Linked DNA regions of Homo sapiens. The protein of the gene in region 4 interacts with the protein of the main gene of each other region in a biochemical or structural test. Each region holds a gene or a part of one and is shown on either strand. Other genes may lie near its edges.

Region 1 (3,500 bases), on a different chromosome or scaffold from region 4:
AGATCGTGCTATTGTACTACAGTCTGGGCAAAAAGGGCAAAACTCCATCTCAAAAAAAACAAAAACAACAAACAAATAAAACAAAACCCAAATATACCACCAGTGGTTTTCTTTCTAGTTTTCTGTTTTATAGTCTTTTTCATTCATAATGATAGTCATTTTTAAATTTTATTAAGAGGCACAGAACTTTCAGTTTTTATTTAAAAGGACTTAAATTCTTCTGTCTTATTTTGCAGATTCCAATACCTCAACCTACCAAATTGCATGTGGGTAAAAACTCCTACCACCCACCAAAGTCCCAGGAGGGTAAGGGGGAAAAACAAATACTGCCACCCTTTGGAAATCATGGGAACTTTTAAGTGACCACCTAGTCCTAAGGATGGAGAATTTGTATAATTCCAAAAATAGTGGGCCTTCTTGCACTGTTCAATAAAAAACCCACATTATCAAATATCTAAATATGATAAGTGAACAAAGTCTGAAATCTGCCATCTTTTCAAAACGTTCAGTTATAATAAATCTACACTAATTTGCTTTGTTAAAAAATCTTGGCCAGGCACTGTGGCACATGCCTGTAATTCCAAAGCTTTGGGAGGCCAAGGTGGGAAATCAGGAGTTCAAGACCAGCCTGGACAATATAGTGAGATTCTGTCACTACCAAAAAAAAAAAAAAAAAAAAAAACTTATAAGAAGCGGATTCCCAATGAAACTGGTTCCCAGGATTCAAGTTAAGATTCCTGACTCCCATTTTCCCTGATCCCATGTTCCACCATGAAAACATAATTCTGTACATATACACTTCACAAATACAGAAGGTTCTTTTAAATTTTGCCCATAAAATTTGTTTGTATCAAAAAATTATAATAAACAAAATCAAATATATATAGTCTAGGACAATTTTAAACAGCCAGTCATCTCAAGTAAATATTTCATCTTCTGAAATTAAAACTTCAAAGGGTCTAGTGAGACATGCATACATACATAAATAAAAGCATCATTCATTCATTATCTCCTTCAAAAACTTAAGAGGAAAATGATTAGGTAATATAGATGCAAAATACAAGGTGTTGTCAGAACCCCACTGTGATACTTCTACTTTTCTCTAATAGGGGAGGAGTAGATAGGCAAGAACCAAGAGGAGAAGGAAGACAGATGTTTTCTGAAGTTTGTGACGCAGAATAGGGGTTATCTAAATAAATAACATGGTGGTCAATGTTCATTTATTCTCTGTCAAATGCTGCTGCTTCTTTAAAACATTAAAAAGTGTTTTTCTCCCTTAGTCTGTCATTTCTTAATGGCAAAAGTTAAATGCCTACTCCTAACTATGTTTAGTGACTGTAAGTCAGTGAACAGAAATGTGCCATTAGAAGATTAGCACTGATGCTGCCTGAAATACGTTATATGCAGTTAGCAGGTTACATTTGTTTTTAAATTTTAATAAAATCTAAAGAAAAGCTTTAAAATACGAGAAATCTATACTCCCCAAAACTATTTGTATTTATACCCATCCTCCTTGCCAACGATTTGGAATATGGCAAAGTAGATATAGGTAAATATTTTTAATACTTCATAAATACAAGCACAGATAGATGGATGAATGTGATCACTGTAACACTGATTAGTGAGCAATATACTTTATAGAGAAGACTTTGCAATGGGATTGCTAAGTAATTTCCCAGTTGGGATAACCTGTACAGCTTACAAGAGTATTTCTATATCTACCATACAAATATCTTTATGAAGATGAAGGAAGAGAACATTCTAAAACACAAATTTGAACATACTGAGCTGAAGCTTACCATTATGGCATAAAATAAGGGTCCAAAAGAAGAGATAACTTATGTACGCTGATGAAGTGGGGTGAACACCATGCCTTTAACATCAATCTTACAGTACTGAAAAGCAAAAACAATAAAACCCCAATATTAACATAAGGCTATTAAGAGAAAAAAAAAGAGATTACATATTTCATAATTAACAAGGAAAATTACTTATATTTTTAAGACATACATATTTTTAAGACACTTTTTAATAATGAGTAACAATAAAATTCATGTACCACAACCTATCCACTCACTGCTGAAAAGTAGTTTCAACTAGGAAAGGCAAAACACACTTGCCAAGTTACAATTATTACTCCTTTTCTCAAAAATACTTAACATCTCCAGAGAGAAAAAAAATACATTTTTTAAAATCTCTTCTCTATCACTACTGTTGCTATTCTCATTTTTCCTTTGAATTATTTTAATAGCTTGCCCACTGGGCTTGATCACTATCCAGTTCACTTTACAAATCACAGATATAATCATGTCTGCTGATAAAAAATCCTCTTATTAATAAGAGAGGACACAAACAAATAGAAAAAAAATCCATGCTCATGGATAGGAAGAATCAATATTGTGAAAATGGCCATATTGCCCTAAGTACTCGTAGATTCAATGCTATTACCATCAAGCTACCATTAACTTTCTTCACAAAACTAGGAAATACTACTTTAAATTTCATGTGGAACCAAAAAAGAGCCTGTATAGCCAAGACAATCCTAAGCAAAAAGAACAAAGCTGGAGGCATCATGCTGTCTGACTTCAAACTATACAATGCTACAGTAACCAAAACAGCATGCTACTGGTACCAAAACAGATATACAGACCAACAGAACAGAGGCCTCAGAAATAACACCACACATCTACAACCATCTAATCTTTGACAAACCTGACAAAAACAAGCAATGGGGAGAGGATTCCCTATCTAATAAATGGCCCTGGGAAGACTGGCTAGCCACATGCAGAAAACAGAAATTGGACCCCTTTCTTACACCTTAACAAAAATTAACTCAAGATGGAATAAAGACTTACAACATAAAACCATAAAACCATAAACCATAAAAACCCTAGAAGAAAACCTAGGCAATACCATTCAGGACATAGGCATGGGCAAAGACTTCATGACTAAAGCACCAAAAGCAATTGCAACAAAAGCCAAAATTGACAAATGGGATCTAATTAAACTAAAGAGCTTCTGCTCAGCAAAAGAAACTATCATCAGAGTGAACAGGCAACCTACAGAATGGGCGATAATTTTTTGCAATCTATCCTTCTGACAAAGGTCTAATACCCAGAATCTACAAAGAACTTAAATTTAGAAGAAAAAAACAACCCCATCAAAAAGTGGGTGAAGGATATGAACGGACACTTCTCAAAAGAAGACATTTATGCGGCCAACATATGAAAAAAAGCTCATTATCACTGGTCATTAGAGAAATGCAAATCAAAACCACAATGAAATACCATCTCACACCAGTTAGAATGGCAGTCATTAAAAAGTCTGGAAACAGATGTTGGTGAGGCTGCAGAGAAACAGGAACACTTTTACACTGTTGGTGGTAGTGTAAATTAGTTCAACCATTGTGGAAGACGGTGTGGCAATTCCTCAAGGATCTAGAACCAGAAATACTGTTTGACCCAGCAATCCCATTACTGGGTATATACCAAAGGATTATA
Region 2 (3,500 bases), on a different chromosome or scaffold from region 4:
CTCACTGTACATTTCATGAAATCTCTTTCCTCAACAGCATCCCCATTCAGATGTCACATCCATTCCGATAATATATCAGGGAGAGATGATAACAATTATGCAATTATATTGCATAATTGAATTATATTGAAATATAATCCATCGGGAGCAGTGGCTCATGCCTGTAATCTCAGCACTTTAGGAGGCCGAGGTGGGTGGATCACCTGAGGTCAGGAGTTTGAGACCAGCCTGGCCAACATGGCAAAACCCCATCTCTACTAAAAATACAAAAAAAAAAAAAAAAAGAAATTAGTCAGGTGTGGTGGCACGTGCTTGTAGTCCCAGCTAGTTGGGGCTGGCTGTGGTGGCTTACACCTATAATCCCAGCACTTTGGGGGGCTGAGGCCAGGAGTTCAAGACTAGCCTTGCCAACATGGTGAAACCCCATCTCTACTAATAATACAAAAAAAATAGCTGGGCATGGTGGCGCATGCCTATAATCTCAGCTACTCGGGAGGCTGAGGCAGGAGAATTGCTTGAACCCACGAGGCAGAGGTTGCAGTGAGCCGAGATCGCACCACTGCACTCCAGCCTAGGCGACAAGAGTGAAACTCCATCTCAAAAAAAGAGAAAGAAATATAATTCACACATCATAAAATTCACCCATTTAAAATGAACAACTGAGGGTGCGGTGACTCATACCTATAACCCCAATGCTCTTGAGGCCAAGGCGGGAGGATTGCTTGAGACCAGGAGTTGAGATCAGCCTGGGCAACATAGCTAGACCCTGTCTCTAAAAAAACTTTTTTTTTAAGAAAACGAAAACTTAGCGGGGCATGGTGGCATGTGCCTGTAGTCCTAACTACGTGGGAGGCTGAGGTGGAAGGATCTCTTGAGCCCAGGAATATGAAGCTGCGGGGAGCTATGATTGCAGTACTATACTCCAGCCTGGACAACAGAGTGAGGCTCTGTCTCTAAAAAAAGTAAATAAAATGTACAGTTCAATAAATATCAGCATATTCATAAACATGCACAACCACCACCACAATCAATTTTAGAACATTTTCATCCCCCCAGAAAGAAACGCTGTGCCCATTAGCAGTTGCTTTCCATGTCCCCCATTACCCTCCTAGCCCTAGGCAACTACTATGTTACTTTCTGTCTCTATAGATTTGCCTACTGGGGACATTTCATTTAAATTGAATCATACAGTACGTGGTCCTTTGTGTCTGGTTGCTTTCACTTTGCAAAATGTTCATGTTGGTAGAGGTGCTTAAAAAATAAAATAAAAAGAACAACAAAAAAAGGAAGCGAAATTCATCCATGTTGTATTGTTTTAGTACTTCATATTCCTTTTCATTGTCAAATAATATTTCATTATGTGGATATACCACACTTTATTATCACATATACCATATTTTATTCCTCAACCCAGTTGATGGATGTGTGGATTGTTTACGCTTTTTGGCTATTATAAATAATACCGCTGTGCACATTAGTGTGCAAGTTTTTATATGGACATTTTTCACTTTTTTTTTTTCTTGAGACAGGGTCTTGCTCTGTCACCTAGGCTGGAGTGCAGTGGCTTGATCACCATCCATTGCAGCCTCAACCTCAAGGGCTGAAGCGATCCTCCCACCTCAGCTTCCCAAGCAGCTCGTACGACAGGAGCACACCACCATTTTTTATAGAGACAAGCGTGTTGGGGGTGTTGGTGGGGGGGGTCTCACTATGTTGCCAAGTTGGTCTCAAACCCCTGGGCTCAAGTGATCCTCCCACCTCAGCCTCCTAAAGTGCTGGGATTACAGGCCTGAGCCACCACACCTGGCCCATTTTTCACTCTTAAACTTACAGTTGTATTGTCATACTAAACTAAGTTAATTGCTGTTTAATTTTTTATTAGCAGGTATAACAATACATTATGCACCATGGTCCAACAATGACAATAAAGTTTTTCACCACTCCGGGCATTTTATCCACACCAATGTAAATGTCCTTGGGTCCCATAGCACCAAGAGACTCTGCCACCCTTTTCTTTACATCACACTGCTTTAAAGTGACTGTAGATTCTGCTTTTGCATCATCCTAAAGGTTTATTTGTTTAATTCATCAAGACTAGGATACATTAGAAATCTTGACTGGGCACAGTGGCTCACACCTGTAATCCCAGCACTTTGGGAGGCTAAGGTGGGAGGATTGCTTGAGCCCAGGAATTTGAAACCAGCCTGGGCAACAAAGTGAGATGGAGTCTTGCTCTGTTCACCCAGGCTGGAGTGCAGTGGCAAAATTTTGACTCACCGCAACCTCTGCTTCCCAGGTTCAAGCAATTCTCCTGCCTCAGCCTCCTGAGTAGCTGGGATTACAGGCATGTGCCACCATGCCCGGCTAATTTTTTTATTTTTAGTAGAGACAGGGTTTCACCATGTTGGCCAGGCTGGTTTCGAACTCCTGACCTCAGGTGATCCACCCGCCTCGGCCTCCCAATGTGCTAGGATTACAGGTGTGAGCCACCATGCCCAGCCCTTTCCTTTTTTTTTTTTTTTTTTTTATAGGAGACAAGGGCTCACTCTGTTGCCAAGGCTGTAGTACAAGTGCAGTGGCATGATTCTAGCTCACTGCAGCCTCAGATTCCTGGGCTTAAGCAATCCTCTTGCCTCAGCCTCTCAAAGTGCTGGGATTACAGGTGTAAGCCAGGACACCCGGCCTCCTTTCTTTTGAATGATATTAATCTGTTCATCATTCAGCACAATTTGGAGCAAAGGAACTAGTAAGTCTTCAACAGGCTTTCACTTCATCCTGCTCCCCCAGTAGTAGGGTCATACAAAAAGTCTACGAAGGTAGAGGCCCTCTTATCACAGCAACAATCATCACTTAAGTCAAAGACATAAAATTAAGGGATACCTTAGTTTCATCACAGAACCAGTCCAAATGTGTTTGTTTGCATTCTCAACATTTCAGTAACCTCTAGGGAGTATTTCTTCTAACAATTATGGGTGGAATTGGGCAGTTCCCCTTTACAAGATATGTTTTATGTACTGCCACCTTTGTGCAGCTCAACCGATTTGGAATTTGCCCAGCTAAACACATTCCGGCAAAAGCTGCAGCTAATTGAAGATCTTCAACGAATTCAGCTAATTAAGACCAAACACACCCTTTCATTTGAAGGTACATTTGACAGTACCTAATACAAGGAAAAGAGCTCCTTTGTCATTCATGTATATCCAACCCAGCAGTGGTTCTGCAGGAAGCTCTGTCAGTCCACAGGCAACTTCACTCTTGTGTAGTTCCCTGTTTCAGTTGTCTCTTGATGCCCTCCCACTGTAGTTTCGTTGGTGATTATCTACCCGATGAGGGTCACATTCCCATCAGAAGAAATATCTGCCCAACTCCTCTTTGGCATCATGTTCCTTCCCTTTACAGAAGGAAATTGGTGGACTTGGCAACACAGGCTCTTTTTTAGTTACTTTCATTTTTGCCAAAGCAGCCTAACCAGCCAGGGAACTGTATTCTTGGCTGACTTC
Region 3 (4,016 bases), on a different chromosome or scaffold from region 4:
AAGTGGGATAGCTGCTTGAGGCCAGCAGTGCAAAACTAGCATGAGCAACATGCAAGACCCCATCTCTATGAAAAATAAAAAATTAGCTGGAGGTGGTGGTGTGCACCTGTAGTCCTAGCTACTTAGGAGGCTGAGGCAGGAGACTGGCATGGGCCTGGGAGCTCGAGGCTGCAATGAGCTATGTTTGTGCCACTGCACTCCAGCCTGGGCAACAGAGTAAGACCATGTCTCAAAAAAAAAAAAAAAAAAAAAAAAGAAGAGGAAAAAGAAAAAAAGAAAGAAGAAAGAAATGAAGGACAGGAAGGAAGGCCAAAGAGAAAGAAAAGGAAGGAAGGGAGGGAGAAAGAGAGGAAGGAAATAGAAAATAGAATCTAAAATATTAACAGTCCCAACTTTTTTTCCAGGAAGGGGCTATTTCATCCTCATTTAGGAACTGTTTGGCAAAGGTTTTAAGGTCACCCAAAGATGAGACCTAAAGAGTTCACTGCTTCAAAGAAGCCCTCCTCCAGCCAACTTGAGGCCAAAGTGGTTTGGAGTCAGAAAGTGAAGTATCAGATACACAGAGCTAATCACTTCAGGATTAACTTGATTATTTAATCAGGAGAAATACAGGGCAGCTGGAATCTCACTATAACGCCACTGCACAGCAAATCCAATTGCCTCATAACTTGGTTCTTTCCAGATTCCAAAACTCCCTTCATGGCAGGGACTGGAGTTCACACATTGGTTTCTTTTTTTTCTGAGATGGAGTCCTGCTCTTGTCACCCAGGCTGGAGTAGCCTGGCCCACACATTAGTTTCTAAACCCTTACTGAAAACAATCTGATAATTAAGTTAGTCAGGTTTAGGAATCCATCTTTCATATAAACATCAAATTAGGTTAGGCCCTTAGCTCTTGTATTGTGAAACTTCAGCCAAAAAGAACCCACAAACATTTACTGAGCATCTACCACTTGCCAAGTACTGTGTTAGAAGCTAGAGGAAAGAGAATGGATGAATAAGACCCTGTCTCTGACCTAAAGAGGTCCATCTCTCTGGACCAGTCAGATAGTCACAATAAAGCAATGTCAATCAGATTAAAATCCTACCCTTGGAATCAAAAGACCTAAATTTAAGTTTCAAGCTGACTAGCTGTATGGCCTTTCCTCCAAATCTCAATTTTCTGATTTGCAATGTGGTGGTAACTGTCATTTTATTTACTTCAAAAAATTATTGTGGGCCAGGCGCAGTGGCTCACGCCTGTAATCCCAGCACTTTGGGAGGCTGAGACAGAGGGATCACCTGAAGTCAGGAGTTGGAGACCAGCCTGGCCAACATGGCAAAACCCCATCTCTACTAAAAATACAAAAATTAGCCAGGCGTGGTGGCAGGTACCTGTAATCCCAGCTACTCCGGAGGCTGAGGCAGGAAAATCACTTGAACGCGGGAGGCAGAGGTTGCAGTGAGCCAAGATCGTGCCATTGCACTCCAGCCTGGGCAACAGAGCGAGACTCCGTCTCAAAAAAAAAAAGAAAAAGAAAAAGAAAAGAAAAGGAGAGGAAAGAAAGGAAAAAAAATTATTGTTAAGAAAAAAATAAAATCAAGATGAAAATGTGGCTGGGCGCAGTGGCTCACGCCTTTACATCCCAACGCTTCGGAGAGCCGAGGCGGGGAGATCACCCGACGTCAGGAGCTGGAGACCAGCCTGGCCAACATGGTGAAACCCTGTGTCTACTAAAATACAAAAAAGTTAGCTGGGCGTGGTAATCCCAGCTACTCGGGAGGCTGAAGCAGGAGAATCACTTGAACCCGGGAGGCAGGGGCTGCAGTGAGCCCAGATCCCGCCACTGCACTCCAGCCTGGGCGACACAGCAAGACTCCATCTCGAAAAAATAAAAAATAAAAATAAATGCAAATGTGTTGTGTAAACCGTAAAGCACAGTTCAGAAAAAAGCGCCATTTATAAAAATAGTTGTAATATAAAAAGGAAGCGTCTGTAAAGCAAGGAGTGGAGTGGTTCAGTAAATGGATGTCTGCACTTGCTGTTCCTTCCATCTCCCGCTAGATATCTGCATGACTCCCCTCATCTCCTCCTAGGCTCTGCTCAAATGTCACCTTATTTAAGATAGGAGATCCCCCTTTCTCCAGCATTCCATGTCCTCTCTCCCCTACCTTACTCTAAAGCATTGCTCACCATCTGTTACACCGCCTGATTTACATGTTTGCTGTCTAGTCGTACTAAAATGGTATCTCCACGAGGGGATGGACTTTCATCTGTTCGACTCACTGCCTGGAGCATCGCAGGTGTTCAATAAATATTTTTCGAGTAAAGTAATGAAGTCAAGATTCATTCTGAGTCATAAGAGGGACTTGGGAGAAAAGGAGCGGAGCAGCCGTTATCCCGAGCCCGAATCCTGCCCCTCGCTCCTCCATCTACTGGCTGGATGACACCCTTCAGAGGCTGTTTCCTTTTTTGGACAGTTTCCGACGGTGGGGCGGCCAAGGTGAATCATGGGCTCCCCAGCACCTGGGACAGAGATGACCCGGCTGAGGCCAGGCCGGCTCCAGCACTGACCTTGAGCTCTTGGGAGACCCGGGCCTTCTGCCGGTACACGGAGTACAGGGCGGCGGTGACCACAGAGGTGGTGCCCAGGAGGATGAACTGGCACAGCGAGGGCCGCCCTCCGCTCTCCATGACGGCGGCGAGCCCCGGTGGCCGACTGTGGCGCCAAGGATAGGCCTGGTGACCCCCGACTCTCCACCTCCTTCCGACCAGGACCGCACCCCCCCGGCCTAACCTGACCGGAAACTCGAAATCAGTCGCCCAGCGATGACGCACGACGCCGGAACCGGAAGCGGGGCAAGGGGTTGTAGAGGGAACCGGAAGGTGGGGTTGCCCGGGTGACAATCAAGCTGCTGCGGCCTCCAGGGAGGTCCTGTCTCCCCAGCCGGGTGTCGGAGAGCGATTGGGGAGCTGAGCGACCACCCACCGCTCCATGGCCGTCCCCTTCGAAACACGGCGCACTGGCCATGACTGACTCGCCCATCGCCCTGGTTTCCGTCCCTCTGGTTTCCTGGGGTTACTGGGCTGTTTGATGGGTTATTCCATGTCTTCGCCATTAGATTGGCAGGAAATAAAATAATTGTGTATTAAACTCTTATGAGTAATATACGTTTAAGTTTCAGAGCAAACTCTCAAGACTTGGAATTTATTCTGGCCACTTTACAGATGAGAAAAGTGAGGCCATAGAGGTTAGGGAATGATGTGCTCGAAGTCTAGTGAGTGCTAGAGAGGAATTCACCCAACTCCAAAGCCCTCAACTCTACCCCAGGAGGGCAGATTATATCACCAAAGTAGCCCCTTAATCTGCCATCACCACATAGAACAACATATTTATTAAATAATAATTACGGCTACGCTTAGTGCCTATTATGTGTCAGGTTCGAGGCGGGGGAGGTTTTGCAGGCACCATCCCACTGAACCTTCACAACACAGCTATAATGCAGATTACCGATAAAGAAACTGAGGCTCAGGTAAGTAACTTGCTCAAGGTTATACAGCTAAAAGCAATAGGTATGGCCATAAAACCCAGGGGATCCTTCTCAGAGACTGTTCCCTGATCTCTGTAATGCATCTCCTTTCTAAAATAATCGGAGATAACCCAAATCTTTCTTCTAAACATCAGCATTCATTGAGCTATCTCCTACAGGTTATGCTTTAATTTTTTTATTTGTTTGAGACAGGGTCTTGCTCTGTCGCCCAGGCTGGAGTGCAGTGGTGCAATCATAGCTCCCTGCAGCCTCCCACCCCGCAATCCTCCCACCTCAGCCTCCCCAGTAGTTAGGACTAAAGATGCATGCCACCCCCGGCTAATTTTTTAAAAAATTTTTTGTAGAGTCAAGGTCTCACTATGTTGGCCATGCTGGTCTGGAACTCCTGGGCTCAAGTGATCCTCCTGACTTGCCTTCCCAAAGTGCTGGGATTACAGGCGTGAGTCACCACACCAAGCCTAAATTCTTGTATTTTCATGTTTACAT
Region 4 (4,954 bases):
CATATGGTCTAAATACTGGGCAAGAAACTTCCACATTTACATTTACTTTGCTTAGGTAGCACACTGCTACTTGGCAGGACCTTCTCTACAAAGGAAGAGTCAGCAAAATGTCACACACTCTACTGGTAATTTGCTCTTAGCTGCGTGTCTTCCTTGGTAAAAAGGAGCCAGGCTAATCTATAAAGCTCACTCTTTTAAGGGCAGATGGACAGTGGAAAGAAGGAAGGGTTACCGTACAAAAGTTTGTCAGTTCTTCAGAGCCAGTAATATGGTAGAAGAGGTATAAAAAATTGTACAGTCTGACCCACAGGGAGTCCTAAGGTATTAAAGGTTAATTTCTGTATGATCTGAGAGACTACTAAATTGATAAATAGTGCTGTTTTGCTAAGTTGCTTTTTCTTCCACATTTGACTGATGGCATAGTATACACATTTTGAAGAGCGAGCAAAAAACAAGATTACAAGATTAGGGTCTTTGCATTTCTTTACCTATGACTAGGTTAGACATTTTAGTGACTTTAAAGATATATATACAAAACCTTTTTTGTGATGCTTGAAGGATTGCTCTTATTAAGAGAGGTAGTTCATTCCAAGAAGTACATTAGACTCAGTACATTGCACTTGGCCAAAGGGAAGTATTAACGAAACTCTTATCCATGTAAATAAGATCTTTAAAAAGCTATATTTAAAAAGAATCCTTGCAATTGGGTTTTAATGCTAATTAAACAGTTTGAATATATCAAGAAGTATTTGCTAATACCATAAAGCTTGTGGGAAATCCACTTAGAACAAAACAATTTCTAGAAAGTATTAAGAAATTTTGGAAATTAAGTATCACCCTTCTTTACAATTAAAATGTCATGTAGGAAATTTGAGATATTCCCAAAGGATGGGCGGTATTTTTATATTTAATTTAAAAACATTACCTATGAGCACATTCATGATTGGCTTTTATGTCCACTAGTGTCAATTCTACAGCTTGTATTCTTCTATTAAAGAAAGTGCACCTGAGTAAGTTAATGTTTGATATCTGAGGGGGGAAAAGCCTAAAAAGAATATTTAATAAAAGGTATTACTGAATAATATTTTCATATGAATAGCACTGCTGCTCTGGCAATTAAGAGAATTAAGGTTACCTGATTCCATAAAGGCCCAATGTCATAAAAGAGGATCTCCCTGGCTGAAGAGCTCTCCTTAATGTGAACACTAAGAGAAAGCAAGAAGAAATTACTCTAGCTTCTCTGACTTAAACAAAAGAACAAAAAATGGATGTGACTTGGAGTCAGAAGATCTGGGTTGGGGTCCTGGCTATATGATTCTGGAAAAACCACTAAACATCATCAGATCTAAGTTCTTCGTCTGTTAAACAGCTATAATTTCATCCGATAACCTAGTTGTAAGATTGTATAAAGGTAAAATAAGATGTACTTTAAGCTACTTTGTAGGGCACAAAGAACATCTAATCAGGGGTTTTCAGCCTCAGCACTGCTGCCATTTTGGGCTGGATCATTCTTTGTTGGAGAAGACTGCCTGGTACACATCAGGATGTTTAGCAGCATCCCTGGTCTCTGCCCACTAGATGCCAGTAGTACCTGACAGTTATAAACTATTATTCTTTCCTTATTTTTCCCTCCCCCATTATCTTGTATAGCGTGGGCTACGCTGCCATATATAAATTTATTCTTAATGCTTAGTCATAAGATTACACTGCCATCTGTCTAAATTTTCCTGATTCCCTCAAACATTTAAGGGAAGCACAGTTCAGCGGTATGTAAGTTTAAATGCTTCCACCTCTTTAAAGTACGTCCCTTATACACAGTACCTTTCCGCATGGAGGTAAACTGATCTCCATGTAAAATGATCTCTTTGTTAATTTCTGAAGCAGTCCAGATTCAATAAATAAAAATTACCATGTGAAAAATGGGTTAACTCTACTCTTTGAATAGCAATAGTAATGATGTTGTAAAATAAGAAACCACTTTGATAACCAGGGGAAAATTAATATAAGATAGTTTTATACAGACAAAATGGCACCTAAGAATAGTATAATTCATATTTTTGTATGCTAGTTTCTCACCAGGGGAGATGCTCAATAGGTCTGTTCATTTATTTAATAAATGTATTTATTAAACACTATGTTAATATGCTTAATATGTGAAGCACTGAGCCAGCAACTGCTGATACAATCAATAATAAGCAACAACAACAAAATAATGCACAAAGATATGGATTCTATCCTTACATAGTTTTCAGTTTAGTAGAGGAGAAAATAACCATTAGGTATTCAACTAGAATTATCAACACTGCTAAAAACACAATCACAGGCAAAGGACAGCATGCTGAAGAATTCATCCAACTCGCACTCATGAACGTGTGTGGAAAATATGTATTTCCTTATCAAGATTTTGGGTAAAGAGGTAGAGAAAAGCCTAAAGGGATAAATAAATGATAATTTTGATAATACATTAATCAATACTGAAGGTCAATATGCCATTTAAGTTTCTATTAAAAATGGTAACATATTCCTCTATGAAATGATCACCATAAGAAATAAAGCAGTTTACCAATTTTAGACACTAAAGTACCATGTGTAAGTTAGGTATAAAAACATGTAATTTATGAGATTCTCCTGATAATACACAAAAATCAGAATTGACCAACTATTTTACATGATTCTTTGGCAAGATACCCTGCAAAACAGCACATCTCATTTAGCTTTACTTTTTGTTTTCCAGGTTAAGGCAAAATGCTATTTAGCAACTCTCTTCTCTCAACTTCACATTCACTTGCTACCAACAGAAAGAGGTTAGGACAGAAAGTCTAGAGGGGACCCAAAAAGCAGTAACTGAGGAAGGAAAGGAGCCAAGGAAAATAACAAATTTTAATTAGTTGTTTCCTCTTTCTGTTGGGTGCAAAAAAGGTCTGGGTTTAGCTCATGTGCTCACTTAAAAGTAGAGAGGAAGTTGGTAGAATTCTGGGTTGGTGTTCTCCCTTCTCCAAAAAGGTTTACTTTCTCTTCTATTTTATCCTCACTTATTGTAGATCAGAGGTATCTTTTCAAGACTGCTTCAGAATAAATGTAGTTTTTCAATCTGTCTCCCTAATTACTGCATGCAAGGTATCCATTTTCATGTCTTGTAAAAATTGGAGCAAGAAGCATTTTACAAGTACCAGGGATCATTATTCCGGTTCCACAGCTATTAGACCAACTCAGGTGGTCTATGATACCTGATATGACGATCTCAGGGACATCCAGAATGTTGCCAAATGAAGCAGTTTTACGGTGGCCCCGTTTAGGCTTGGAATAGGCTGCAAAAACACATATATACAGTATACATGCAAACAACCACAAACAGTAACACGGAAAATGATTAACTACAAAAATAGACTCATTTTCAAATAGTTCATGTTAATAACATTTCATGCAGAATGGCATGCAGAACTACCTAACTTTTCATCCATGCTCAGAAAAGGCGAGATTAAAGAGCAAACAACTACCAAATACAAGATGTTTTACACACTGGTTTTAATTAGCAGAAAAAAATAAAAAGAACAGAGACAAAGCTGCAGGGTAATGAGGAAGCAAAATTTCAAATATATTCATAGAAACAGTCTACCTAAGTGAAATCACTGATCTGTGATGGGGGTGGGGGAACGAAGGAGGAGAGGAAGAAAGGCGTTAAAAAGTAAGTTGTCGTATTTGTTTTAATTACACAAACACAGGAATACATGTTCAAGTTAGGTGTTTCTTGAAGTGTGCTATAAAGTAAAATCCAATGATTAAATAATAATTATTGAATCAAAGTGTGAAATGTATATGCTTTTGTAGTCATACTTATACATATTTCTAGTACCAAATATTTATTATATTTTCCAAAGTTTAGGGTACATTCACAGTAAACACAAAGTCTGTCAAAAGGCTGGAAAGTATGACTCTTTCCAAGTAAGACAATTCATGAAAAAATTTAAATTGTGTAAAACTCAAGGGATGTACAATAGCATTTGTTCTACACTTAGGCAAAATTTTAATGTGTGTGGTTATCCTTCTAGCAAAGTCATTTCTGTAAATAATAATAAAAAACCAGTGCTTGACTAGAAATATGATACTAGCGAAGACATGAAACCATTATTATAACAATTTTCAGTTTTGAGACAGCAATTAGTATGTGGCAGATCTATCCTGAACAACATCCCTGAAGTGAAAAGGGTTCCTCAAAGCATGAGGGTATGTCCCGGTGAGTAGGGTTCATCTGACACTACAGTGAGACAACCCTGCTCCAAAGAAATACTTGTGACTCATGGAGACTCATGGGCTTGTCAGTGGCTGGTGACTTCTACTCAACTTGATAGTTTCTGAAGACCCATCTGTGGCAGACACAGCTATCTTCTGCCAGTTTCCACTCTTCCCTTCTGTTTTAGCAATAGTACTCTGATTTTATTTAGGACAGAAAAGTCATCAGATAAAAGAGGGCAGATCTCCTCTTCCCTTGGAGCTACGTGTAGCCATTCGACCATGTTACTTTGACCAATGATGTGTGGATGTTGTTAAGAGAGGCATCTGGGAATGTTCCTTCAAAGAACTTGGATGTCTATTTGCCCTGCCCCCATGTCTTCCTTCCTATTGCCTGGAATGTAGAAGTGATGAAATGGAACTTCAACAGCCATTTTGGAGCACAGGATAACTTTGAGAATGGAAGCTATACAGTAGGGATTACAGCACAGAAATAGGAGACCAGTTACTTCAAGATCACAGAGCCCACTACCTCCAGACTTGTTTATATGTGAAAAATAATGCTTATGTGTTATAGACACTGTTATTTCGGATATTCTGTTATATCTAATGGATTCTAATAGTAGCTGATAAAATCAATGATCATGATTAGTTGAAGACAAGTATAGTATGATGGTCCATCTTGACAACTTCTTTCTGAAAAGAGCTCCACACACAATGAGAA

The links. The genes of interacting proteins can lie anywhere in the genome.
Region 1: the proteins of MAP3K7 (region 4) and SUPT20H form a complex in vitro, tested with the Homo sapiens proteins (one large-scale study listed by BioGRID).
Region 2: the proteins of MAP3K7 (region 4) and NAIP form a complex in vitro, tested with the Homo sapiens proteins (one study listed by BioGRID).
Region 3: the proteins of MAP3K7 (region 4) and MUL1 form a complex in vitro, tested with the Homo sapiens proteins (one study listed by BioGRID).

Annotation. Positions count from the first base shown.
Region 1 is NC_000013.11:37,049,689-37,053,188, forward strand, and holds part of SUPT20H (transcription factor SPT20 homolog), read right to left. Parts: intron 1,896-3,500; 5' UTR 1,803-1,895; coding exon 1,800-1,802; intron 1-1,799. UniProt on the Homo sapiens protein: Required for MAP kinase p38 (MAPK11, MAPK12, MAPK13 and/or MAPK14) activation during gastrulation.
Region 2 is NC_000005.10:71,015,340-71,018,839, forward strand, and holds part of NAIP (baculoviral IAP repeat-containing protein 1), read right to left. Parts: intron 1-3,500. UniProt on the Homo sapiens protein: Anti-apoptotic protein which acts by inhibiting the activities of CASP3, CASP7 and CASP9. Can inhibit the autocleavage of pro-CASP9 and cleavage of pro-CASP3 by CASP9.
Region 3 is NC_000001.11:20,505,352-20,509,367, forward strand, and holds the start of MUL1 (mitochondrial ubiquitin ligase activator of NFKB 1), read right to left. Parts: upstream 2,801-4,016; 5' UTR 2,674-2,800; coding exon 2,554-2,673; exon of another isoform or gene 2,176-2,553; coding exon of another isoform or gene 2,173-2,175; intron 1-2,172. UniProt on the Homo sapiens protein: Exhibits weak E3 ubiquitin-protein ligase activity. E3 ubiquitin ligases accept ubiquitin from an E2 ubiquitin-conjugating enzyme in the form of a thioester and then directly transfer the ubiquitin to targeted substrates.
Region 4 is NC_000006.12:90,541,325-90,546,278, forward strand, and holds part of MAP3K7 (mitogen-activated protein kinase kinase kinase 7), read right to left. Parts: intron 3,309-4,954; coding exon 3,228-3,308; intron 1-3,227. UniProt on the Homo sapiens protein: Serine/threonine kinase which acts as an essential component of the MAP kinase signal transduction pathway. Plays an important role in the cascades of cellular responses evoked by changes in the environment.